Regions from separate parts of the Homo sapiens genome. Here region 1 is linked to region 2. The links come from fine-mapping of genetic effects on gene expression. A gene starts in region 2. The other region holds a variant in brackets. All regions are shown on one strand. Distances are from middle to middle.

The links. PIP is the estimated chance that this variant, and not a neighbour inherited with it, causes the effect.
Region 1: its variant is fine-mapped to the expression of SSR1 in fetal neocortex (Walker 2019, PIP 0.95).

Annotation. Positions count from the first base shown.
Region 1 is chr6:7,278,967-7,289,766 of GRCh38, reverse strand. It overlaps SSR1 (signal sequence receptor subunit 1), which reads left to right. Exons shown (of 8, transcript NM_003144.5): 8 at 1-8,624. Among named protein-coding and RNA genes, the nearest start is that of SSR1, 29 kb to the left of the region's middle. RefSeq lists a silencer at 7,825-8,025. The variant TG/G (reference allele first, on the strand shown) is at 4,088.
Region 2 is chr6:7,308,786-7,324,991 of GRCh38, reverse strand. SSR1 (signal sequence receptor subunit 1) reads left to right here and starts at 11,793. Exons shown (of 8, transcript NM_003144.5): 1 at 11,793-11,950; 2 at 14,963-15,075. The coding sequence starts at 11,872. RefSeq lists silencers at 286-395, 12,048-12,157, 12,288-12,337 and enhancers at 11,418-11,477, 11,488-11,557, 10,894-11,760, 11,761-12,629.

The DNA of each region.
Region 1 (10,800 bases), 33 kb after region 2:
GCAACTCCTACTTGTGTGTGGACTGAGCAATCAGAGTCTGTGGCGATAATATTGCTGAAAATGCACTGCATTCATTTTTCTAAAGTAACAAATTTGGTTTTTTTTTAAACCATTAAAATCTATGTGTGTGCGTGTGTATGTATGTGAGCAGTTGGTCTTACCAGAATCATTGTTGAACTACCTGAAACAAGTCTTTAGAATACTAAATATAATGCTGTTGTCTCTTCCTTTTTGACATTTTCTGATTTTTTCCCCCAAAACTCAGTTAATATTTACCCACTATGATTATTGATGTCCTGCCTTGAACAGTTTTAAAGAAAACAATTTTTGGAATAGCTCAAATTTCAATTGATGGCACAAATCAGCATTTTGTTGTTGTTACTGTATTACAATTAGTATTCTAAAGGCAGAAGCAGAAGTAGCTGCTTTTTAGCAATAGAATTGTTTCAGTATTTTGCTGCTGTTTAATGCGCATCTTCAGAAAACTTCCCAGTGGCTTCAAGGAATTTGGGGATCTCTCTGGCAACAAATTGTGAAACATGAAATTTCTGCTGACTTTAATATATGAAACCTAATCCTACCCCCTTTTTTAACAAAAAGAAACTAGTACATTTGTGAAAATTGTGTTGTGTTGTCCATTGTTGCTCTAGTTCTGACCCAGAGGTAGCTCTGGAGTGATTTTAGACCTACTCACTCAGTTGTGTGTAGGTTTTTTTGTTTTGTTTTGAGAGAGAATTTTTCTCTCCTTAATAGAAGCATCCTTTTTAAAGAGAAGTTGCCTTGGTCCACACACTAAGCAGAAAACCAAGTTATCAGGACAGAGATATTTCCCAGTTACTCCTAATCAATGAAGAAAGTGAGTTGGATATTTTTAAAGCAGTTAACTAATTTTTTCTTACCTAATCTTTTGGGAGTTTTGCTTGTTGATATAACCTTTTTAGTTAACCTGAAAGATTCCAAAAATTGTTCTTAAGTGCTTGAGACTGGAACCAAAATTAAATTGTACTTCATAAAATCCTCTTATAGAGTTACTCTTGCCCTAGATTGTAAATTAAGTTTGGCATTATTGTCAGACTGGATGGAGGGTGAAGTAAAATAGTATGAACAATTAAGAGGCTCTCCCCCTCTTGTCTTTAAGCCATATTCTCCTACATGTATTTTATAAGAAAATGTTAAGTCAAATTTTAGTGGCTCTTTAATTCCTGACCTCTTCATTCTCCTTTTCAGTATAACCTCCCCTATGCTCATGCCCACACAGACAAAAAAACAAAACGAAATACACACAGAAAAAAGTCTTTCCAAACTGTTTAAGTATTTAAACATCTGAGCCAAAGCAGATAGAAGTTATTGTATAATTGTTAATCACTTTGCAAATAGGGGCTATCAAATTACCTATATTGGCATTGCTGGATTATAAACTCTATATCTGTAATATAAAGTGTTTGAGTTTTTAATTGGGCTGTTATGATCAGTAGTTGATTTTGAGAAAGCTCTATGAGCTCTAAGTAACTGCATGGTTTTTTGTTTAATGTAATATAGGAGACCCTTCACATTCCCAAGGAATATATTCCAAAACATTTTTGTGAATATCTAAGTTTGTGAAACTACTAGGGCATGATACAGTAAGGTGTAATTACAGAATTTACGAAATGTAAATGGCCTCTACAGAGTTTTATGGAATACCTGGTACTAACGTAGGCAGCTGCAAAACCACACTGAGTTACAGCTGTCAGCCCTCCTCATTCCTAAATAACTTGCCTTACATATCAGCCCTCCCACTTCTGAAGTTCAAATTAGTGCCTCGGAAATGTAGAATTTATTATTTGTCATTTTTTTTTTTTTAGCATAGATTGAGAACAGTTGAACTCTTAAATCCTCAGATGCCAGGGGTCTGCTCTAGCATCAGTAAGTATTTAGCAGAAACTAACTCCGTAATGAATGGAATTCAATTCCACACATGGTTTGTTCAAGCACACTTAATAAGTAGCCTATTTTTTAAATGTCTTTTTAAAATGTAAATATTTGGATGAAGTTTTTCTTTGTTTTGATATATTCATTTGCTACACCAACTATGTTTTCAGAATTCATCTTTTGAACAACTTGGTTTCAGAATATGTAAAATGACTTTAAGGATCTTGTGTATCAAACCTATCCCCGGATGTGTGAGAATAATGTGTTCATAAAGCATGGATCTCGCTTTGGTTGTATAGCTTCCTCATTTACTTCATGGTCTTACATAGCTGGTGACTTTCAGGGCTAATCTGCCCTCTAAAGCATTGTCCCAGGAGAGGAAAAGGAAATGGGACCTCAGAAGTAGAAGCCTCAGGGAAGGAGTAAAGTAGAAATCAGAAGAAAAGAAGCTTCACTTGATAGTAATAAGGTTTTTAACTTCAAGTACCTTCAGAAAATGTGATTTTGATAAGAGGAAAGGGCAAATTTAGACCTTAAAAAATATGGAAGAACTACTGCCTTAAAAGTGCATTTGTGGCACATCAGCCTAGAACTGTATCATGGCTGTGCTGGGGAGAAGTAAATGGTGGTAATGTAACATTGCCACCTTTACTTAATGATGTGTTATTTTCGAGGTACAGTAGATCAATATAGTAATAGGCGAGCCTCATATATAGCATTCATCTTGTACAATGATATCCATACCCTTGATATGAAGGAAAATTGACTTGGTTTGTGCATTTGAATACTGAAATAATTTTTTAAAACTCAGTGACACATACCATCTCTTGCCAAGACTAGACCCTGTATTTTAGTTCCTAAATTAGATGTTTAAATTTAAAAACATTTTCAGATGTACTTAAGTACTTCCATAGTACTTTTTTTTTTTTTTTTTTTTTTGCCCCCTGAGACGGAGTCTCTGTGTCACCCAGGCTGGAGTGCAGTGGTGCGATCTCGGCTCACTGCAACTTCTGCCTCTTGGGTTCAAGCAGTTCTCCCTGTCTCAGCCTCCTGAGTAGCTTGGATTACAGGCGCCCGTCACCGCACCTGCCTAATTTTTGCATTTTTAGTAGAGACGGGGTTTCGTCATTTGGCCAGGCTGGTCTTGAACTCCTGACCACAGGTGATACGCCTGCCTTGGCCTCCCAAAGTGTGCTGGGATTACAGGCGTGAGCCACTGTGCCCGGCCCACTGTTCACTTTTTGAATGGCATCATTTTATAGCTGTAGAACTAAAATCAATGTTTGCCCCAATTTTCTTAAGTAAAACTCTACTTTGAGCTCTTACCTCCAACTTAGTAAAAAGCAGCTTCACACACAAACAAGATTCTTACTGGTGGAATGTTAGGTTTCGTTGTTAAGTTAATCTGTCTATAAGCTCATCCTTAGAGGATATTTGAGGAGGAAGAACACCTTGCAGCTGACTTGCAAACATCTAAATAATTTATTTCGGGTGCTTATGAATGTTACTAATGGATTTTGTATGAATTTTTATCCCTTTTCATTTATACAAAAACCTGGGCTTTTATGTTAATTATATCATCTGAGGTTCTAAGGTTTTTTTTTTAGATTTTGAAATTTAGGGATAATAGCTCTTAGGTTTGGGTACCACTTTGCTGCAGTTTAAGAAAGGGGGAAGGGAACTCATTTATTAAACATCAATCACGTGCTGTGTTCTGTTTGTTTTCTAGTCATCATATCACACACCTTTACGACAGCTCACTGAAGGAAGGTGATACTGTTCCCATTTTGTAGATGGAATAGACAAAACCTGAATTTAAGTAGCTTGCTCAAGGTTCCATATTGAATATGGAAAGTTCAAATCATCTCAGTAATGAATATACCATATATACTTGCTGTATTGTATCTATGATAATTCAGTTACCCACAATACCCTTTTAAATTTCTGTTAATGACATACCTTTAAATGTCTCCTTGATGAACAGAATCATGGTCTTTAAAAACATTTTCATGGGTTGATTGCATTTTCAAGCTCTAAAGGATTGAAAGATAAATCTTCACGTTAAAGGTAAGAGTGAAGTATCTGCTCTTGGGTTACAGAACCAGATAGTACTAGAACTAAGATTACAGGGTAAAGCTGCTTTTATCTTTTTTCTTTTTCTTTTTCTTTTTTTTTT[TG/G]ACATGGGGTCTCACTGTATTGCCCAGGCTGGAATGCAGTGGCATGATCTCAGCTCACGGCAGCCTCTGCCTCTTGGGCTCAAGCGATTCTCCTGCTTCAGCTTTCCAAGTATTTGGGACCACAGGCGCACACCACAGGCCTGGCTAATGTTTTTGTTTTGTTTTTGGTAGAGACGGGGTTTCACCATGTTGCCAGGCTGGTCTCGAACTCCTGAGCTCAAGTGATTCACCCACCTTGGCCTCACAAAGTGTCAGGCTTACAGGCGTGAGCCACTGCGCCCGGCTCACAGGGTAAGGCTTCTGTCTGGTGTGTTGTATTACGGATTTTGCTTAATAGGCACAGTGAGGCATTAAAAAGAAAATTCAGTATGCCTGTAGAAAGGATAATCCTTGTTTAAAGTCTCCAAATTGCAGTCAAAGATGTTTTGACTGTGCCTTTTTTTGTTCCCCTGCTGTCCCTTATGTAGACTTCTGTCAGTACCCATGGCAGCCTGTCATCTTGTTGACATCTCCTTCTGGACTGTGAGCTCTGTATCTGGCTTGTTTTTCATCCCCAGCTTCTAGTTCACAATTAGGTAGAACCCTATTACTCTTTGAAGAAGGAACAAGAAAATGTGGGCCAGTTTTCATTTGCCATTCTTCCATGTGAGTTAGTATGGTTCGTAAGTATTCCTGGTGATACGCTAGTATTGGCAATTCTGTGAGGTTGAACAAAGGGGTGGTATGGTGTGCTAGCGTGGGAATTAGGAGACCTCTGGGTCTTGACAGTGCCCTGGCCACTAAGCAAAGGCAGTTCATCCTTGGAGTCTCAATGTGCTTTTTTGTTAATTGAGATATGCTTGAAGTATCAGCCCTAAATAGTCTGATTCTGTGACCTACAAACCCTTACTTAATTCAGTGTTACTATAAATGATTCTTCCCTTAAACCTACTTTTTACTTAGCAAAAGAGAAAAAAAAAAAAAGGAAACGCTCATGTCAGGCTGCCTGGGTTTGAACCCCAGATCCCCTCTTAGTTGGAGGCAAGTTGTATGATGCTTCAGCTTTTGGTTCCTGCCTCCTAAGGTTGTTAGGAGTTACTGTGTGTAGCTGCTTAGAACATTGCCTGGGTCTCAGTAAGCCGCTTAAGTGACTGCTCTCATTTTCGCTGTAAAGCACCATACTGTAATAACATCCCATGAAGCATGGGGCGGGGAAGAGTATATGGTACCTTATGGACTTTGATGTGGTGGGGTAGTAGGTAAATTCTGAATATGTAAGCTACATAGTATTCTTTTTGTAACTAAAGGATAAAAGTTTTAAGATGGGCATGTAATATGGCTAGCACTGGATTTTAATGATGAGCCAGAGTAATAAGGCTGGCAAGGGGAGTTTTTGTTTTGTAATAAATCTCTTACACCTGCACATCCAGTTCTTTTTAAAAACACGTTTGAAGAGGCTCCATATTTCTCAGTGAAGCTGTTGGGGTTCATGTTATTTTTGAAAATCATCTTGCAATTTATTTCAGCATCAGACTGAACCACCCAAAGAAAATTAGTCTATTTCTGAACAGTTTTTTCAGAAACCATATTGGTCTGATCACCCAACATTTATAGAAATAGGCGCTTAAGGCCTAGAGGCATTTCAGAAAGGAGAATGAGAAATACTGTGGTCAAGAGTAGTGTTCAGATGGAGAACATCAAGCATCTGCTCTGCCCTTCCACACACATCCTCATTTCATCTTCACAACTGCCCTAGGTAACCTTGTTATCTGTAATGAAACAGCCTCAAGGAGCACAGAGGCACTCACTCCTCACGTTTGGTCTGTTGCCATTTCCGGCTTGGTTGGAATAGGGTAGGAGCCTTTTGGCAGGGAGCACATTCTCAGTAATGCAGAGTGCACTCACCTGGGTTCTAGCTTCAACACTTAGGATTTGCTTGATATTTTGTATTCTCTGAGGCACTGCCTGTATTTGTTTCTGCTATCACAGTCCAGAGTCAAGCTTCATTTATAAAGACTGGGCAGGGCATGGTGGCTCACTCCTGTAATTCCAGCACTTTGGGAGGCTGAGGTGGGTGGATCACTTTAGGTCAGGAGTTCAAGACCAGCCTGGCCAACATGGTGAAACCCCATCTCTACTAAAAAATACAAAAAGGCCGGGCACGGTGGCTCACACCTGTAATCCCAACACTTTGGGAGGCCAAGGTGGGCAGAACACCTGAGGTCAGGAGTTCAAGACCATCCTGGCGAACATAGTGAAACCTCGCCTCTACTAAAAATACAAAAATTAGCCAGGTGTGGTGGTGCATGCCTGTAATCCCAGCTACTTGGGAGGCTGAGGCAGGAGAATTGCTTAAACCTGGGAGGTGGAGATTGTGGTGAGCTGAGATCGTGCCACTGCACTCCAGCCTGGGAGATAGAACGAGACTCCATCTCAAAAAAGAACAAAAACAATTAGCCGAGCGAGGTGGTGCACGCCTGTAATCCCAGCTACTCATGAGGCTGAGGCAGGAGAATCACTTGAACCCAGGAGGAGGAGGTTGTAGTGAGTCAAGGTTGCACCACTGCACTCCAGCCTGGGTGACAGAGTGAGACTGTCTCAAAAAATAAGTACATAAATAATAAGTAAAAGCTACTAACAATTAAAAAATAAATAAATAAAGACAAGACTGTCTGGAAAATGGCTCTCCTAAAAGGACCAGTTGCCATCATCCACAGTGGAAGATTCAAAGCAGTTGGTCCTTGGTACGTATGAGAAGCGGATTTCATTCCCTTGAATTCTACAGAGCAGTTTATTAGAGTGAATGCATTTTAAGGCCTTGCATTTGATATGTCATCCAGTTCATAATCAAGTTGCCTTTTTCTGGCTAAAACATAATGATTATGTATTTTTCTCATTTGGTCCTACAAGCTGCTGGCCCTTTGTCCCTCCACTGTGGGAATCAGATCTAGAGGAGGCTGAGCCTGCAGACACAGCAGTGGCCAAAAGGTCACTCTAAGTGTTTTGTCTTGACTCCTTACTTGAAGTCCACCCAGCTAGCACACATCTGGTTTATACTGAAGCCCCCTGCCTAGAAATACTCATTTCAGGAACCACCAGTAAGCATCTGTGACCACACAGGCTTTTTGACTGATGGCTTCCCGGATCTGGTTTCAAGGGATAACCCCGTCTGTGTGCATCTATGGTCTTCTCTCTACAGCGAGGACTTTGCAGTGCTGCTTGTGGTCCACACAAGGGGCTCAGAGCTGAGTCTGAACTGCTTCATGGTCACCAGCTCCTGTCCCTTCCAGTCTTGAGAGGCTTTTTTCTCCAGATGGAACCTTTCCTTCCCGCCGTTTTCTCGGTCTCTGGCTGTTTTTCTCTTGTGCCCGTCTAATTGGACACCTCCTGGCTTCCATCTCTGTGGTTCTCCTGCCTCACTTCCTGTTCTGTTGTTTTTCCGTTTTGTCAAAATATCTCCTATGTTCTTGGCTTCCTTTTCGTCGCCAGGTTTTCAGCTTTCCTTTAGCTCTTCTTCTAATATGGCTTCTGCCCACAAAAGCCTGCTCTGTCAGGATCTCATGGTTCTCCACTTGCCAGAACCTTCTTCAGCCTCAGTTCCTCGGCCTCAACTTGTACGTTTAACCCATTGACCACCACCCCCCAAATTCACCTTCATTTCTTTGACCCTGCTCCTCACTCCTTTTCTGTTGAGGAATCTGTTGACTAACTCCAGGCTCACTCAGGCTCACCGTCCTGCTCTCTGCACCAGCCTTTCCAGAGCGTGCCAGTTCTCATGGCTTCATCTGTTAACTGTTGATCACTTCAGTCCTGATTTTTAGACCTAAATGGTTTCCTTAACGCCATTCTAACTGCCTGTGACTCATTTTCACTTACAGTGTTTATTGTAACGCCAAACCAACAAATCACAGGTGCTTGCTTCTCTCCATAAATCTCCCCAGTCTAACTTTTTGTCATTCAACATGACTCGTTTATCCAACCTGAAATCGCATATAGCCCCAAGTATGGTGTTTTGTACACAGGTATTTAATAAGTGACTTCCAGTTTTGGCTCTGCTATGAATAAAAAGAGATTTCAGTTCTCTTCACTTTGAAATCTAACAACTCAGAGAACATTGAAGAAATTGGAATTTAGTTGGGATGAAATACTTGTGGTTTAAAATATTTCTGTTCATATTTTCTAATTTGTTGCCGGAGGTCTTGGGTTTTCTATTTGAGTGCTTGCAAACTCAATGTGATTTCTGTCAGCATATCTTAGGTTTGTTTGTTATGAAACTTATGCAGTGTGAGGTTCTATCTGAAAATGTTATTTAGCTATCTTCTGGGACTATTTAATGAAAGTGGGGTCATGAATCCTTAAAATTCTTGTGCAGCTTTGAGAAACATTTCTGTTATTTGGGTATCAGTTTGTAAGTGTGGTAAAGCCAAGATGGAAACGAGCACTTTGCTTTCTTGGTTGTTGTTACTGGTCTAACCTCCTGCTTGAACTAGTCTGCTGTCCTGTCAAATGCATCTTTTTATTTACATGTCCCTTAAATTAAAGCTGATCATGAAAGTATTTGTGTGCAACATGAAATGTTTTCTAAAGTACCAGTGCATATTCCTGCTTGGTCTCAAGACGCACGAGGAATCCAAAATAGAAGCAAAAAAAGAAAAGAAAAAAAATCACAATTTTGATCGGAATGTCCTCCTGGAAATTATTTAAAAGTTTGGCCGGGCACGGTGGCTCACGCCTGTAATCCCAGCACTTTGGGAGGCTGAGGTGGATGGATCACAAGGTCAGGAGTTCAAGACTACCTTGACCAATATGGTGAAACCTCGTCTCTACTAAAAATACAAAAATTAGCTGGGCGTGGTGGCACGCGCCTGTAATCCCAGCTACTCATGAGGCTGAGGCAGGAGAATCACTTGAACCCGGGAGGCAGAGGTTGCAGTAAGCTGAGATCACGCCACTGCACTTCAGCCTGGGTGCTTCCGTCTCAAAAAAAAAAAAGTTCACACATTTTTAGACATTTCAGTGATGTTTTAGAATAAAGGTGATTTAAGATTGGTTTTACAGGCACTCTTGGGCTGTCAGCTAGTTGGCTTTTCAGATGATGATCATAAAGACACTCCCCCTCACGCAGGTATATGAGTAAGTAAGGTCTACCCCATCCACACTCCCATACTGACTTTCCATTCCCAATAATTGCACAGACTGCATACTCTGATCGCTTATTAAACATTTCTAAGGAAGCCGAGATGGATCTTTGATGTAATTTTCTCATCTGTATACCCAGCCAGTAAGTCAGTAGCACCTAAGATTTCTTTCCCTTCAAGATTGTATTCTAAGCAGTAGAATTAAAGTGTTCTTCATAGAAAAAGTAACTTTTAATTAGAGGCTGTGCAAACTCTGGAGAATCAGTCTTTGTTACCAGATAATAATGTTTTTAGCTTTTTCTGCTGAGAGGAAAAAATGCTTTGAAGAATAAAAAATACTAGAGCATAACAAGCTTGGGGAGTTAGGAAAAAATATATTAGGGCAGTAAGAACCAGCATTACGTCTTCTCTGCAATGCTTGAAACATTCAGTATTAAACTTTGGATTAATCCAAAGTCTGAAGAGAAATACACCAAAATGCTAAAGCCGTTTTTGGTTAGGATAGTGGACTTTTTTTTTCTTCTTCAGAATGTTTGTAATGAGCCTATATTTTATAATGGAAGCAATAAATGCAAATGTGAAATTTATCTGAGCCTCCTACAATGAGTATAATAAATCCAGTGGTTGTGGATAGCTTATTTGTGGCCCCAAAAGAAACGGAGCCACTTTTTAAAACTTGGATGCATTGTCACTACATAGTGAAAGAAAATCAAGATATTCTTTTTTTTTTTTTTTTAAACGGTGTCTCACTCTGTTGCGCAGCTGGAGTGCAATGGCGCAATCTTGGCTCACTGCAACCTCCGCCTCCCGGGTTCAAGCGATTATTCTGCCTCAGCTTCCTTAGTAGCTGGTATTACAGGAATGTGCCACCACGCCCAGCTAATTTTTGTATTTTTAATAGAGACGGGGTTTCACCATGTTGGTCAGGCTGGTTTTGAACTCCCAACCTCAGATGATCCACCTGCCTAGGCCTCCCAAAGTGCTGGGATTACAGGTGTGAGCCACCGCGCCCAGCCCAAGATAAGAGTCTTTTTTTGTTTTTGTTTTTTTGACACAGAGTCTTGCTCTGTCATCCAGGCTGGAGTGCAGTGGCGTGATCTCGGTTCACTGCAAGCTCCGCCTCCCGGGTTCACCCCATTCTCCTGTCTCAGCCTCCCGAGTAGCTGGGACTACAGGTGCCCGCCACCACACCCGCCTAATTTTTTGTATTTTTAGTAGAGACGGGGTTTCACCGTGTTAGCCAGGATGGTCTCGATCTCCTGACCTCGTGATCCACCCACCTTGGCCCCCCAAAGTGCTGGGATTACAGGCGTGAGCCACCGCACCCGGCCCCAAGATAGATTCTTAATAGAAAACCCTTGAAAGTATTTCTCCTTTTCAGGGACTCAGCCTTTCTCTTTGCTGTTTGTAAAAACATGAGCTCCTCTCTGCTGCCGAGTTGGTGCCAGGCCAGTGCTCAGTGCAGCCACTCCTGCCCCACCCCCTTGCCTCTCGGGCTTTATGCCCACAAGAGTCCAAGCCACTCTATCAGATCCTGACTCTTCTCTTCTGGAAACTCTCCTCTGGCTTCCACTGGCATCTAGGTGAGCACAAGT
Region 2 (16,206 bases):
GGTAGCTGTGAAGCATCTTGAGTGGAGGTATTTCATAAGCAGTTATGTATATGCTGAGAAGTGATCAGGGAAGAGACTGAAGATCAAGGAGAGAGAGGGATCATTGATGAAGCAAGATGTCAGAGGAGAAAAGAGAGACTAGGCTCCACAGCACAGCCTAGGGACAGGGACAGCTCTTCCTCTGAAATCAGGACAGGCATGTTCAGGGCAAACATAAGCCGTGGTGTAGTAAGTTGAGGGAGCTCATGGCCGGGAGTGTCACTCTCTTCTTGTAGTAGGGGGACGGAAGAGAGAAGTGAAAGTTGGAAATAGCCACAGCTTCTGCCTTCACAGAGTAAAGCTTTGGCTCTCACCACAGGAGATTGCATGGGGACGCAGTTTCCTCTCCCGTCTGTGGACTTACGCACTTTCCTCTTTTTTCCTCTGGTCTGTTTGGTCTCTTGTCCTCTTGACTCTGACCCATCGTATCTCCTTGAGGATTTGCTCCGGCAATCATTTGTATCTTCTCACACCTTCCTTTATAACTCTTCATTGAACCCTACCCTAGCCTTTAAAAAATATCCTTCCTGCAACCCTTTTCTTTTCTAAAGCTATCATGGTTCCTCTCTTTTCACTCCCCATGATAAACCTTCCAAAAATTGTTATTTGCAGTTTACAAGGCACTTTCACACACTATCCTAAGTAGGTTATCTGAACTCATAGTGTTTCTGATAGCTATTTTCCTGTATCTCCAGTCTTCATAACTCTGATTTTTGAAGGCTGTATAATATTTCATGGATATGTGTCATAATTCACTTAAATATATTTTATGGACAGGTTTTCAAATCCTTACTCCATAGTCAGTGTTCATTGCCTTCCATGCTCTGGGCCCAAACTTCTGTGCCTTTCCCCATATTGTTTCCTTTTTTGGGAATGCACTTTCCTTGCCCACTAAAAGCTCTCCTTTCTTCACATCCACCATGCAGTACCTCATATTTAAAACATTTGTACCCTTTGAGATCTAATTCAGATCTCACCCTCATCCTCATCTGAAATGCCTCTTTCGTCTGTTTTATCTGACTTTTTAATGGCACTTAGCACATTCTTCCCTAAATTATAATGCAGGAGAGATAGTACGGAATAGGAAAAAGAGCACTCGACAGGGAATCATAAGATTCAGATTCAAACCCTGGCTCCTCCATAACATCTGTTTTAGGAAACTAAGTTCATAGTCACTCTAGTTTAAGAAGAGTTACAGGACTGTGCTAATATTGTTTAAGGATATAAATGTTTTGTATATTATGTTCTATCTTTCAAAGATCGTTAACATTCGCCTATATAAATGCAACTCTTGGTAAGAGTGAGCCGCCTATATAATTCAAATCTAGCAGATCCAGTCTGAAAAAAACTGCAAAGGACTTTGGGAATTAGTATGAATTATGATTGCACCTTAGGGGTAAGGTGTGAAACTGGACAAAGATCATCCTGTATTTAGCAAGGTTAAATGTGCATGAAGAACAATTAGAATATATTTTTATAAAAGTCTAGTGGGCACAATATGGTAAAAATTCAACACTATAATACAGTGGAGGATTCTTATCATAAATGGGGCCAAGGGCCAAAGAAGGTGCTGGGAGAAGAGTTTTCAATTTTCAAAATTTCACAGCAAAGCTGCTCCACTGGGCATGTCTCCACTTGTTTGATGGGAGGATTTGATCCCCTAATGAAAGAGTGTTGGTAACTGGAAGAAGAGGCATAAAACCTATAGTACATAAATACACAAGTTATTACCACCAATAAATGTATTTTCTATACTCTTCCCTTTATTGAGGGATGATTTATGTGCTGTAAAATTCAACTATTTTAAGTATACAATTCAGTGATTTTTAGCAAATTTATATAGTCATGCAATAATCACCACAATCTAGTTTTACAATATTTCCATCACCCCATCCCCAAATTTCCTCCATCCTATTTGCAGTCCGTCACTGCTCCCACCCCATGTTTCCCAAGGATTCTGATCAATCTTCTTCCTGGGGAACATCCAAGAGAAGGGTTGGTAGGACAAACTGTGATCAACTGCTGTGTTTGAGCTTGAGGCATCGGGGCTGCTACCTGGGAAAGTTTTAGTATTCTGCTGTCATCTCCTATGAACTATCTAGTTTTTGCAGGGGCAAGCTGGCAAATTAAACTGGGATTTAACACAGACCACCACCCCTTTGAAGGTGACACACACCTCTACCATTCCCCACTGATGTGATTGGTTTGTATTTTTAATTTTTAATTTTGGCTGCGGAGGGGAGTAGTGGTGGTATTCAATACTAAATGGCAGTTGTGGTGGTGCTTCAGGGCTCTTTGTCATAGGAACCTGACTTCTGCTTCAGTTCTGGGATTGATAATTGGGTCAGGCCCAGTGGAGGAAGGGGAGCTGTCTAAATTCGTTCCTGCTGCTGTAACAAAATACCTGAGACTGGGTAACTTATAAAGAACAGAAATTTAGGACGGGCGCAGTGGCTCACACCTGTAATCCCAGCACTTTGGGAGGCCAAGGCAAGCAGATCACGAGGTCAAGAGATGGAGACCATCCTGGCCAACATGGTGAAACTCTGTCTCTACTAAAAATACAAAAATTAGCTGGGCGTGGTGGCGCACGCCTGTAGTCCCAGCTACTCGGGAGGCTGAGGCAGGAGAATCGCTTGAACCCGCGAGGCAGAGGTTGCAGTGAGCCGAGATTGAGCCACTGCATTCCAGCCTGGCTACAGAGTGAGACTCTGTCTCAAACAAACAAAAAAAGAACAGAAATTTATTTCTCACAGTCTCAGAGTTTAGAAATCTGAGATCGAGGTGCCAGTAGGTTCGGAGTCTGGTAAAGGCTGCTCTCTGCTTCCTTGTTGCTGTGGCCACCAGAGGTGATGGATGCTGTGTCCTCACATGGCAGAAAGAACGCAGGTCGGGTGCAGTGGCTTGTGCCTGTAATCCCAGCACTTCAAGAGGCTGAGGTGGGTGGATCACTTGAGGTCAGGAGTTCAAGACCAGCATGGCCAACATGGTGAAACCTCGTCTCTACTAAAAATACAACAATTAGCTGGCTATGGTGGCGCATGCCTGTAATTCCAGCTACTCAGGAGGCTGAGGCACAAGAATCACTTGAACCTGGGAGGCGGAGGTTGTGGTGAGCTGAGATCGTGCCACTGCACTCCAGCCTGGGTGACAAAGTGAGACTCCGTCTCAAAAACTAATAATAATAAAAAATCAAGACTGGCAAAAAGGGCCTAGCTAGTTCTCTCCAGAGCTTTTATATGGTTGCTGATCTCATTCATGAGGGCTCTGACTTCAAGACTTAATCACCTCCGAAAGGCTCCTCTTCTTATAATATTATCATGTGAATTTTAGGGGACACATTCAGACCACAGCAGTATCAAAACTTTTTATTGGGATGACTGCCCTCAGCCTCCTGGTTTTTCTTGATTTCTTTTTTTCTTTTTTTTCTTTTTTGAGATGGAGTCTCGCTCTGTCTCCAGGCTGGAGTGCAGTGGCACAATCTCAGCTCACTGCAACCTCCACCTCCTACATTCAAGCAATTCTCCTGCGTCAGCCTCCCGAGTAGCTGGGACTACAGGCACGTGCCACCACGCCTGGCTGATTTTTGTATTTTTAGTATAGACGGAGTTTCACCATGTTGGCCAGGATGGTCTCGATCTCCTGACCTCGTGATCCACCTGCCTTGGCCTCCCAAAGTGCTGAGATTACAGACGTGAGCCACTGCGCCCGGCCTCTTGATTTATTTAATTGTATAAACTAAACAATGCTGTTGTTGGGTGCCCATCTGTCTTGCCTCTAGGAAGGCGTTTTATCAGCTATTACCATAACTCTCTACAGGTTACTCCCCTTGCCCGTTCCCCAGCCCCTCTCCCCTATTCTGACCCTGCAGAATTGTGAGCAGTGTGCCCACATTGTTGCTGACCATTAGGTGATGCCGTCTGGCCTCCATTCCCATCCTTACTCCCACTGCTGTCAGTGCAGTTCCATTACGGCATCTCTTGCCCTGAGCCCAGACCTCCAGAGCACAGCTGACCAATGTTCTTCTCAGCCCCTCTCACCAGTGCATTTCTCATCGCTTTGGTAAATGGAGTGTCCTCTAAGGCCTCTTACAGAATATAAGCAGGTGAGTTTCCCAGCCTTATGTAGTACAGTTATCCCTCAGTATCCGAGGGGGACCAGTTCCAAGACTCCCAATGTATACCCAAATCTGCGGGTGCTGAAGTTCCTTAAAATGACATATTATTTGGCCAGGCGCAGTGGCTCACGCCTGTAATCCCAGCACTTTGGGAGGCCGAGACGGGTCGATCACAAGGTCGGGAGATCGAGACCATCCTGGCTAACACGGTGAAACCCCATCTCTACTAAAAATACAAAAAATGAGGCAGGCATGGTGGCGGGTGCCTGTAGTCCCAGCTACTCGGGAGGCTGAGGCAGGAGAATGGGGTGAACCCTGGAGGTGGAGCTTGCAGTGAGCCAAGATGGTGCCACTGCACTCCAGCCTGGGCGACAGAGCGAGACTCCATCTCAAAAAAAAAAATGACATACTATTTGCACATAACCTACACACACCCTTCCATATACTTTAAATCAGCTCTAGATTACTTATAATATCTAACATAGCATCAATGCTATGTAAACTGTTATACTTTTATTTGTATCTTTATTGTTCTGATTTTTATTTATTTTCCAATATTTTTGATCTGCAGTCAGTTGAATCCAAGAATACAGAACCTGTAGACACAGAGAGTAGACAGTGTGCCCATTCTAGCAGGCCTATATTTAGGTGCCAAGCAGAGAAGAAGGAGGGGTTGCTGAGGTGGAAGGAAAACCAGAAGCATGGATGTCGGTGAGCCTCGAGAAACAAGTGCTCAAGAATGAGAGGAGGAAAGGCTCACATGAGGGCCATTAGACCTAGCAAATTTTAGTGAAGTGTTAAAAATAAGAGCACAGTTGGAATAGACTGAGAAGAAAATGGAGGGGTAAAATACTGATGCTTTACTGTGTCAGGGAGCGGAGAAATTAGACTATTGCTGAAGGGGAACCAAGGCCGAGAGAGTTTTTTTTTAAAGACAGGGAATATTATATTTGTCTGTTGATGTTCAAATAATGAATTAGAGAAGTAGAAATGTATTGTGAGGGAGAAAAGAGGGGGCTATTTTCAGAATCTCATGTCCTTGAGCAGGAGATGGGATCTAAACCACAAATGGTGGTTGGCCTTTGATGGGCCTCTAAACATCGTTTTATTGTAACTGAAAGGACTGATGGCTCATACCTGTAATCCCAGCACTTTGGGAGGCCAAAGTGGGAGGATTGCTTGAGGCCAGGAGTTGGAGACCAGCCTGGACAACATAGCGAGACCCCATCTCTACAAAAAAAAAAATTTGCTGGGCATGGTGGTGTGCCTGTAGTCTTAGCTACTTGGGAGGCTGAGGCAGGAGGATTTACTTGAACCCAGGAGTTCAAGGTTACAATGAGCTATGACTGTTTCACTGCACTCCAGCCTGGGAGACACAGCCAGACCCTATCTCACAAAAAAAAAAAAAAAAAAAAAAAGGCAGAGCCTGAGCACAAGGATGCAAGTAAGTGGGGGGTCTTGTGGTGACTGATCAGGTAGTTATGACTTCATCTGTTCTTTTCTATGAAGTATGTGCTGGGGAAGGATTGGAGGCCTTCCTAAGTGAGGAGGTGGGCTGGAGAGCCAGCACTCCCTTTAAAGTCGTTCTTATTTCTTGTTTCCTTTCCCATAGTGCCCTCTTTTCATAAGGATTATAAAGGAGTTTTTTTCCTTGGAGGTATAGTTCACAAAAGCTAATTCTTTTTTTTTTTTTTTTTTTTTTGCCCTTGCTACATGAAAGAATGCTTAAGCGTTTGCTTATATATAATAAACATAATGTTTTTGGGGTTTTTTACTCAATGTTTTTTCATTTCTTATTAGGTTTACAATCAAACTTGGGTTCAAATTTATGGAGGAAAGATGTGACTTGTAACAACACTATACCTTCATTGATTCAACAAATACTTACTGAGTTCACACTGGTTGTCAGGCACCCTTCTATAACATTAAGACACAAACTCCCTGGCCACAAGATGTTCACAGGTGACCAACAGGAGACAGGCTGAACTATATTGTGAGAGGAGATAACCAGTACTATGAACAAGAGGAGAACAGAGGGAAATGGAGAATGTGGGGGCAGGAGGGTTGGAATTTTAAAGCAGAGGTCAAGGTAAGCCTCACTGAGAAGGTGACAGTTGAGCAAAGATTTAAAGGACATGAGCGGCTGGACGCAGTGTCTTACACCTGTAATCCCAGCACTTTGGGAGGCCGAGGGGAGGGGGGTGGATCACTTGAGGTTAGGAGTTCGAGACCAGCCTGACCAACATGGTGAAACCTCGTCTCTACTAAAAATACAAAAATTAACCGGGCGTGGTGATGGGTGCCTGTAATCCCAGCTACTCTGGAAGCTGAGGCAGGAGAATCGCTTGAACCCAGAAGGCAGAGGTTGCCATGAGCCGAGATTGTGCCACTGCACTCCAACCTGGGTGACAGAGCAGGACTCCATCTCAAAAAAATAAAGGACATGAGGGAGTTTCTTGGCCACACAGTTACTTGGTGGGGGTATAAAAGAACAAACACGAGTACTTAACAAACACATTTGTGAGTGATGTGGAGGGAAATCTTAAGTAATCAAAGGGAAAGAATCCTCTGCTTTTACACATTCTAAGGGAATGAAATGACAGATGTGGAGAATCAACTACGGATTTGTCTGAGGTCTGTGAAGGAGAGTCACCAGGATATGGAATATTCCCTGAAAAGAAATCCCTTCAAAGAGATTGGTACAGACATGGGGAGAGATTTGGAAAGACTTAAATAAATTAGTAAATGGAATTCATAATTCCATAAATTAAGGATTGGAACCAAGTAGGGCAGAGAGCTCTGGGTGGGCACCAAGGAAAAGCTGCTTATTACGGGAAGAATGTGGATCACAGTGATGCAGAATTGGTGAGCACACTGGTCAGGGTGAGCCCCTTACTTCCTTGATCACAGCTGTCATTTTTTAATACTAATTGGACAGTCACACAGGTCTTCTGTTTTCTGTTTACATGTTATTTTCCCTAAATTCATCACATCAGTAATATCTCGAGTAGGCACACTTTATTTTTCCTGTTGTACCAATAGTAGCTGGTTGTGTAAAATTCAAGTCCCAAATAAAATCCGATAGTAATCGATTGATGACATCATCATTGGAGTGGAAGTCACAGGTTAAGCCTAAACTAAATTATCCTTACATGTTCAGGCTACGTCTAAACATCTGAGAACCGGTGAGACAGACCTACTAGGAATCTCTTTACCATAAAGAATGAGACGTCGTCCCCTTCAGTAATCAGTCCTCTGAATGGGGAAAGCAAGCCAGTAAGACACGGTGGTGCCGTGATGGAGAGCAGGTGTGATTTTGAGTACAGCATGAAGTCTGTAACTTCACCATCTATTACAGTTCCCATCAATTGTTTTTGGTGTTAGGAGAGAGTAGCAAGTTAAACAGAAAGATGTATTTGTCAAAACACCTGTCAGACATCAACAAGCTCAGAGCAGGTCTCATTTGAAACTCATGAAAGGGTGCCTCAAAGTAGGGGAGGGAGATTATGCTGAGTCAGTGGAGAACTCTGTAAGGTACAGTCACCTCAAAGCAGGGACAGCGTGCTGGCAGTCCTTGCTCGCTCTGGGGGCCTCCTCGGCCTTGGCGCCCACTCCAGCAGCGCTTGAGGAGCCCTTCAGCCCGCCGCTGCACTGTGGGAGCCCCTTTCTGGGCTGGCCAAGGCCAGAAGCGGCTCCCTCAGCTTGCGGGGAGGTGTGGAGGGAGAGGCGCGGGCGGGAACCAGGGCTGCGCGCGGCGCTTGTGGGCCAGCGCGAGTTCCGGGTGGGCGTGGGCTTGGCGGGCCCCGCACTCGGAGCGGCCAGCGGGTCCGGGCAGTGAAGGGCTTAGCACCTGGGCCAGCAGCTGCTGTGCTCTATGTCTCGCTAGGCCTTACCTGCTCCGCCGTGGGGCAAGGCTCGGGACCTGCAGCCTACCATGCCTGAGCCTCCCCGACGAGCGCCACCCCCAGCTCCACAGCGCCCAGTCCCATCGACCACCCAAGGGCTGAGGAGTGCTGGCGCACCGCGCGGGACTCGCAGGCAGCTCCACCTGCAGCCCCGGTGTGGGATCCACTGGGTGAAACCAGCTGGGCTCCTGAATCTAGTGGAGATTTAGAGAATCTTTCTGCCTAGCTGAGGGATTATAAACACACCAATCAGCACTCTGTATCTAACTCAAGGTTTATAAACACACCAATCAGCACACTGTATCTAGCTCAGGGTTTGTGAATGCACCAATTGGCACTCTAATCTGGTGGGGATTTGGAGAATGTCTAACTAAGGGATTGTGAATGTACCAATCAGCACTGTGTCTAGCCCAGGGTTTGTGAACACACCAATTGACACTCTGTGTATAGCTAACCCAGTGGGGACATGGAGAACTTTGTGTCTAGCTCACCAATTGAAAACACACCAATCAGCTCTAAAATAAACCAACCAGCAGAATGTGAAGCCAAATAAACGGAAAAAAAAGCAGGCTGCCTGAATCAGTGGCAACCTGCTCAGGTCCCACTCCAGTGTCCAGAATTGGGGGCTCATTAGCCTCCCTGACTTAAAGAATGAAGCTACAGACCCTCACAGTGAGTACTACAGTTCTTAAAGGCAGTGTATCCGGAGTTTCTTCCTTCTGGTGGGCTTGTAATCTCACTAGCCCAAGAGTAAACCCACAGACCTCCACAGTGAGCGTTACAGCTCTTAAGGTGGCATATCTTGAGTTATTCATTCTTCCTGGCGGGTTCGTGATTTCCCTAGCTTCAGGAGCGAAGCTGCAGACCTTCATAATGAGTGTTATAACTCATAAAGGCAATATGAGCTTAAAGAGCAAAAGAACAGATATTTTCCCAGCATGGAAAGAAACTGGAGCCTGTTGTCGCTGCTAAGCTCAGGGCAGCCTGCTTTTATTCTTATCTGGCCCCACCCACACCCTGCTGATTGGTAGAGCCGAGTGGCCTGTTTTGACTGGGCACTGATTGGTGCGTTTACAATCCCTGAGCTAGACACAAAGGTTCTCCACGTCCCCACTAGATTAGCTAGATACAGAGCGTGGACGCAAAGGTTCTCCAAGGTCCCACCAGAGTAGCTAGATACAAAGTGTCGATTGGTGCATTCACAAAGCCTGAGCTAGACACAGGGTGCTGATTGGTGTGTTTACAATCCCTGAGCTAGACATAAAGGTTCTCCACGTCTCCACCAGACTCAGAAGCCCAGCTGGCTTCACCCCGTGGAACCCGTACTGGGGCTGCAGGTGGAGCTGTCTGCCAGTCCCATGCCTGTGCACCTGTACTGATCAGCCCTTGGGTGGTGGAAGGAACTGGGCACCGTGCAGCAGGGGGTGGCGCTGGTCGGGGAGATTCCGGCTGCACAGAAGCCCATGGGGTTGGGGGAGGCTCAGACATGGTGGGCTGCAGGTCCCGAGCCCTGCCCCGCGGGAAGGCAGCTAAGGCCCGGTGAGAAATCGAGCACAGCAGCTGCTGGCCCAGGTTCTAAGCCCCTCACTGCCCCCCGCCTGGCCCAGTTGGCCGCTCCCACTGCAGGGCCCGCCAAGCCCACGCCCACCCGGAACTCGCACTGGCTGGCAAGCACCGCGCGTAACCCCAGTTCCCGCCCGCCCACGCCTCTCTCCACACCTTCCCGGCAAGCTGAGGGAGCTGGCTCCGGCCTTGGCCAGCCCAGAAAGGGGCTCCCACAGTGCAGCGGTGGGCTGAAGAGCTCCTCAAGTGCCACCAAAGTGGGGGCCCAGGCAGAGGAGGCGCCGAGAGCGAGCGAGGGCTGAGTACTGCCAGCATGCTGTCACCTCTCAGAAGCTTTGTTTTTTGCAATAAATCTTGCTGCTGCTCACTGCCTTTATGAGCTGTAACACTCACCGCGAAGGTCTGCAGCTTCACTCCTAAAGCCACCGAGACTATGAACCCACCAGGAGGAATGGACACCTTAACAGCTGTAACACTCACTGCGATGGTCTAGTAGCTTCACTCCTGAGCCAGTGAGACCATGAACCCACCAGAAGGAAGAAACTCGGAACACATCCGAACATGATGAAGGAACAAACTCTGGACTTTAAGAACTGTAACACTCAGCACGAGGGTCTGCGGTTTCAGTCTTAAAGTCAGTGAGACCAAGAACCCTATTCCAGACACAGCTCTGACATAGAGTGGCAACACTGGTAGCGTGCACAGGAGCAGAGGCAGCAGCAAAGTGAGAGGAGGCCCTCCACTTATGCTGGGCGCCCTAGTAGCAGCAGCAACACAGCAGCGGTGCCACTGGTGGCCTGGCAGAGTGGAATTTGGTTGATTCAGCCCAGCACCATCAGGCTGTGACTTTAGCAGACTGTAGGTAGTGGTGGCAGTGGGTCCAAGCTGCATTTACAGCCCCCAGGACAAGGAGACCTGAAGCGGAAACAATGCAGGAGTAGAACAGCAAATGTCCTAGGTCAGTAGTGTATGGAATCTGGAACCAGATAGCCTTGTTCAAATCTTGCATCTGCCGTTTGCTAGCGTTTTGAAGCTTTGAGTAAATTACTAACCTCTCTGGGTCTGTTTTCTCCTCAGTAAATAATATCCAGCTCATAGAGAGGTTTAGAAAATTAAATGAAAAAGCACAGCTCTAAGGAGGTGATTGACAATAGTAAGCATATGATTTATTTCCTCATCTTTATGACATCTCACTCTGGTCCAGACCAAGATTACTTAATATTCAGATTAATTTCATGAACTGCTATATTACTCCAGCAACTCAAATCCAAAATAGATGAAAAGGAAACTAAAGAAAACTGGACAGCCATTGCTGCACCTATTGTATAGTTACAAATGCTGACTACATACCAAAACACTGTTTAGGTGACTTATAATTCTGGAATGTCACATACGAATTTAAGAATTGCTGGCCAGGCGCAGTGGCTCACACCTGTAATCCCAGCACTTTGAGAGACCCAGGCGGGTGGATCACCTGAGGTCAGGAGTTTGAGATTAGTCTGGCCAACATGGTGAAACCCCCGTCTCCAGTAAAAATACAAAAATTAGCCGGGCGTAGTGGTGCGCGCCTGTAGTCCCAGCTGCTTAGGAGGCTGAGGCGGGAGAATCGCTTGAACCCGGGAGGCGGAGGTTGCGGTGAACAGAGATGGTGCCACTGAACTCTGGCCTGGGCGACAGAGCAAGACTTCGTCTCAAAAATAATAATTTAAGAATTGTCATTACTTAACCATGGGAGAGGGTGTGGGCAGACAGGGGACAAAGATTTTCCACTGTGTATTTTCATGGTTTTTCCTTTGAACAATGTCCTCTCTTCCAACAAAATTTTTTGCTTTTAAGTGCCACATAAAGGCAGCTCATGTTCCTTACATCGCCGTTATCAAGAGGATCGTCATTCAAATAAAGTAACCACTGACAATGCTAATTAATTGGAAGTAAAGAACTGGGCGGAAAGAACGGCTAACCGCAAGCTGCCGGGTCGCAACTGCGGCGGAAGGCGGACTCTCGCGGGAGCCACAAAGAGGCAGCAGCCGGCCACGTGACTTCCCGGTGGCCTGCTCTCCCCACCTCTCCGCGCTGAGCAGCCACGTCGGCGGCGGTCCCTGGTCCAGGGAGGGGCGTGGCAAAGGCCCGTGCGCGGTACGTGTCCCGCCCCTCGCTGCCCGGAGCCCGGATGAAGAGTAACGCCATTACCGCCGGAGCCGCCGAGAGCCTTAGCCGACGGAAACTGGACACTGGACCGGCAGCGCCATGAGACTCCTCCCCCGCTTGCTGCTGCTTCTCTTACTCGTGTTCCCTGCCACTGTCTTGTTCCGAGGCGGCCCCAGAGGTGAGGCTGGGGGAGTGTGCGGAGGGGATGGCCAGGAAGGAGATGCCAGTGATGGCAAGTTTGAAGTTGGAGGCGGTGGCCGCTCCGGGTCCTGGGGTCCGCGTCCACCCCGCTGGCCTCTCTCCGCCCTCTCCCCAAGCCTAGGCTCGTAGCAGCAGGGGTCCCCGCGGGCGCTGGAGACCCCGCTGCGGCCTGCCCCTTGCACGCGGAGCGCGGGGCCGTGCCCGGGCGACCTTGCTTCGTGGCCGGCCGAGGGCTGGGCTTGCTCCTCTTGCCCTGGACCCTCGCCTGCAGGAGCGGCCAGAACTGGAGGGTCCTCGGCTGCAGGAGGAGGCGCTGGACACGGCTGCGCTCCGAGCGCGCCGCAGCCGGGCTGTTTCTTTTGGCCACCTCCGGCTCCGCTCCACCCCCAGCCCCTCGCGCTCAGGGCTGACGTGTCTTTAGCTTCCACGCCGGGAGTCCGTCTTCATTCATTTGCCAAAACCCTTGTTTTCTACACATCTAAGCCATCAGAGTGTCTTGTTCAATGGTCATCTGCCTTGTTCACGCCCTGCTTGACCCGTATGTGTTACTAGGAGGCTTGATTTCAGAAAAACTACCCCATCGTCACCCCCGTTATCCGCCCCTGCTGCCAAGCAGACTGAAGAATCCCTGTGGGATGTCTCCCTTCTGCCTTCTTCCTCTTCTTGTCTTTCCATGGAACAATTTTTTGTTTGTGGAAACATCGTATTGTGCTGAAAAAATGTGGCCTACTTCGAGTGTTTTTAATACATAGATTTATTCTTTCAACAATTAACCCAGCAATTAAGTGTGAAAATAACTTAGCAGAATATAAAAATATGGCAACTTGACTTCCTGCACAGGTTTTGTCGTGAACTTCGACTTTCTAATTTGTAAAGTGAAATAATTAGTCTGACTAAGCATCCCTTTCATTCTGTAAGTTTAAGCAAGCTGTGTGTCTTAACGGTAGTGACAGGTATTCACGAGTTGTTTTGCGATGAAAAGTGAAGTGACTGGCTTCTGTTTAATGGCTAGAAAACCAAGTGGGAGAATTAAACAACTGTTAATGAGTTAATCTGCAGGTTTAACAAGATTTTTTACTTTAGGAGTCGTTTGCTGGTACTCTTTAAGCTTTTTAAAAGAAAACTTGACAAATGTAGTTTTAGTTTTAGAACTATTTATAACTATTTTCAAGTTATAAAAACTTTCAAGAAGCATGAATTCATTATCTAAACTGAATTAATATCTTGTAAACATTTTTTGTGAGAAACGGTTTTTGTGTTTGGTTTTTCCAGTTGAATGAAGACTGTTAGACTTCATGGGGACAAAATTGTTATTGGTTAACATTAAAATAATAAAATTGTTTAATATTTATGAAAGGCCTTTATATTCCAAAGTGCTCAAATTTAACCACGACTTTAAATTACTATATCAGACATGGTATTTTTCTTACTGGTTTTTGAAAAGGACTTGTAAGTTATGAATGCACTATTTTAGGCTTTGTTCAGCAGGCAGTGAAATCTCTTTAGTTCATAATGCATGGTTCAGTGTTCTTTAATATTTTGCAATAAATCTTAGCAGCCAGTGAGAACTTAAAGACATGGAAAAGACTGCAAATGCATGGTCCTTAACTGTTTCTCCTGGGTGAAAACACGCTTCCCTTCCCATGTTTTTTATCCACAGAATTGCCACATCATCATTTTTTCTGAGAGATGTTGGAAGACACTAGAACTTTGAAATTCTTTTTATGGTCTTGCCTGAAATAGATATAATGTGACTTACTTAGAGTACTATTGTCTATAAAACTGTGATTCACCTTTTTTTTGCATTATACCTGTACTTTGTAACACTAAGTTTGAGAAAAAATATCTTAAAACATGTTTGAAGCCACATGCAAAAATAATTGGATTCTTTCTTTGCTATCAAACCTGAAGCTACCAATACAGTTTTTACTAAACAATGTTTTTCATGCAAGCCAGTTTTTACCATGGATATGATTACAGATATTTGTTCCTTGGCTTACAAACTATCCAGTTCTAAGAGTTTCAGCTGTAGTCACCTCTGATAACAGTGTTTCCTACATAGAACATTAGAACTTAAGAATGCTTTATTTTTTTATTTTTATTTTTTTGAGACGGTGTCTTGCTGTGTCGCCCAGGCTGGAGTGCAGTGGTACAATCTTGGCTCACTGCAACTTCTGCCTCCTGGGTTCAAGCGATTCTCCTGCCTCAGCCTCTGGAGTAGCTGGAACCACAGGTGTGTGCCACCACACCCAGCTAATTTTTGCATTTTCAGTAGAGGCGGGGTTTCTCTGTATTGGCCAGGCTGGTCTTGAACTCCTGGCCTCAAGTAATTCACCCTCCTCAGCCTTCTAAAGTGCTGGGATTACAGGCGTGAGCCACCGCGCCGGCCAAGAATGCTGTTTTCTTTTAAACGTGGGGGTTGTTTAGTTTGCTTTGTATGGTTAATGACAGGGATTACATTTAGAAGTTTCTTATCTTTGCAAAAAATTATTTTCCTTAATTTGCTTAACAAAGTTGCTTGAAGTTCTTTGTGCTTCAAGGCATCTTTAGTTTGTGCCATTCATTTTTCCATCTGTTGGGCACTTTTTGAAGTTAAACCACATTTCCCATTAAAAATAACATGGAAGGCAGGGAACAGTGGTTCACGCCTCTAGTCCTAGCTACCCAGGAAGCTGAGGTGGAAGGATCACTTGGGCCCAGGAGTTTGAGGCTGCAGTGAGCTATGACTGCACAACTGTACTCCCAACCTAGGCATCAGAGCAAGACCCTGACTCTTAAAAAAAAAAAAAAAAAATTGATATGCAGTTGTTAAGACTACTAGTAAACTAAAATATAAATATTCTTCGGTGCATTGTAATTGGCATCATTCAGGTGAACTGGGAGATTCTGTTAGTCCAAGGGAAGTTTTTTTTGCCTATACCTGATGTTAAAAAAAGAAATTAGTATTTCAGAGTAAAGGGTAACTGCTTTTTCTGTATTTTATCATTAGGCTTGTTAGCAGTGGCACAAGATCTTACAGAGGATGAAGAAACAGTAGAAGATTCCATAATTGAGGATGAAGATGATGAAGCCGAGGTAGAAGAAGATGAACCCACAGATTTGGTTAGTGTTACATACTATTTAATATATGTAAAATGTATGTAATTGTATTCATCTGTTCTCATGCTGCTAATAAAGACATACCCAAGACTGGGTAATTTATAAAGGAAAAAGGTTTCATTGACCCACAGTTCAGCATGACTGGGGAGGCCTCAGGAAACTTACCATCATGGCAGAAATTGAAGCAAACATGTCCTTCTTCACAAGGTGACAGCAAGGAGAAGTGCAGAGCAAAGGGTGGGGAAAGCCCCTTATAAAAACCATCAGATCTTGTGAGAACTCACTTTCACGAGAACAGCATGGAGGTAACCGTCCCCGTGATTCATTTACCTCCCACCAGGTTCCTCCCACGATGTGCAGATTATGGGAACTACACTTCAAGATGAGATTTGGTTGGGGACACAGCAAAACCGTTATCAATAGTACATCTAGAATTTATCCTTACTTATTTATTTTTAGAGACAGAGACTTGCTCTGTTCCCCAGGCTGGAGTGCAGTGGCACGAGCATAGCTCACTGCAGCCTCGAACTCCTGGGCTCAAGTGATCCTCTTGCCTCAGCCTCCTGAGTAGCTAGGACTACCGTCATGCCCCAACAAGCCCGGCTAATTTTTGTAATTTTTTTTTGTAGAGACAGGGTCTTGCTATGTTGCCCAGGCTAGTCTAAAACTTCTGGGCTCAAGTGATGATCCTCATGCCTCGGACTCTGAAGGCACTGGGATTATGGGCATGAGCCACCACACCTGGCCTAGAGCTTATCCTTATACAAAAATTTAAAATCCCAACTTTTAGAGGTTTGTTAATGTGATCAAAGTGAATTGAAGTTGGGAGAATAGGCACCAGTCATTGAGAACAGAGCATAAGTATTTTCTGGAACAGGGAAGGAGACATGAAATAGTTAACAATTCAGGATCGTGGTGACATGAGTCTAGAAGGGTAACAACATAGTAGAAATAGCACTGGACCTCATGGTTTCATAGATTTGGAATACCTGCTGCTTCCTTTTCTGACTTATCTCTGTGGGTCTCAGTTTCTTTTTCGCTTGCTTGCTTTTACTCTGTTTTTATTCTTTTTGCTTGCTTGTTGTATTTCTGAATCCTTATGTGCCAGGCACTGTTCTTGGTGCTGGGTGGGCA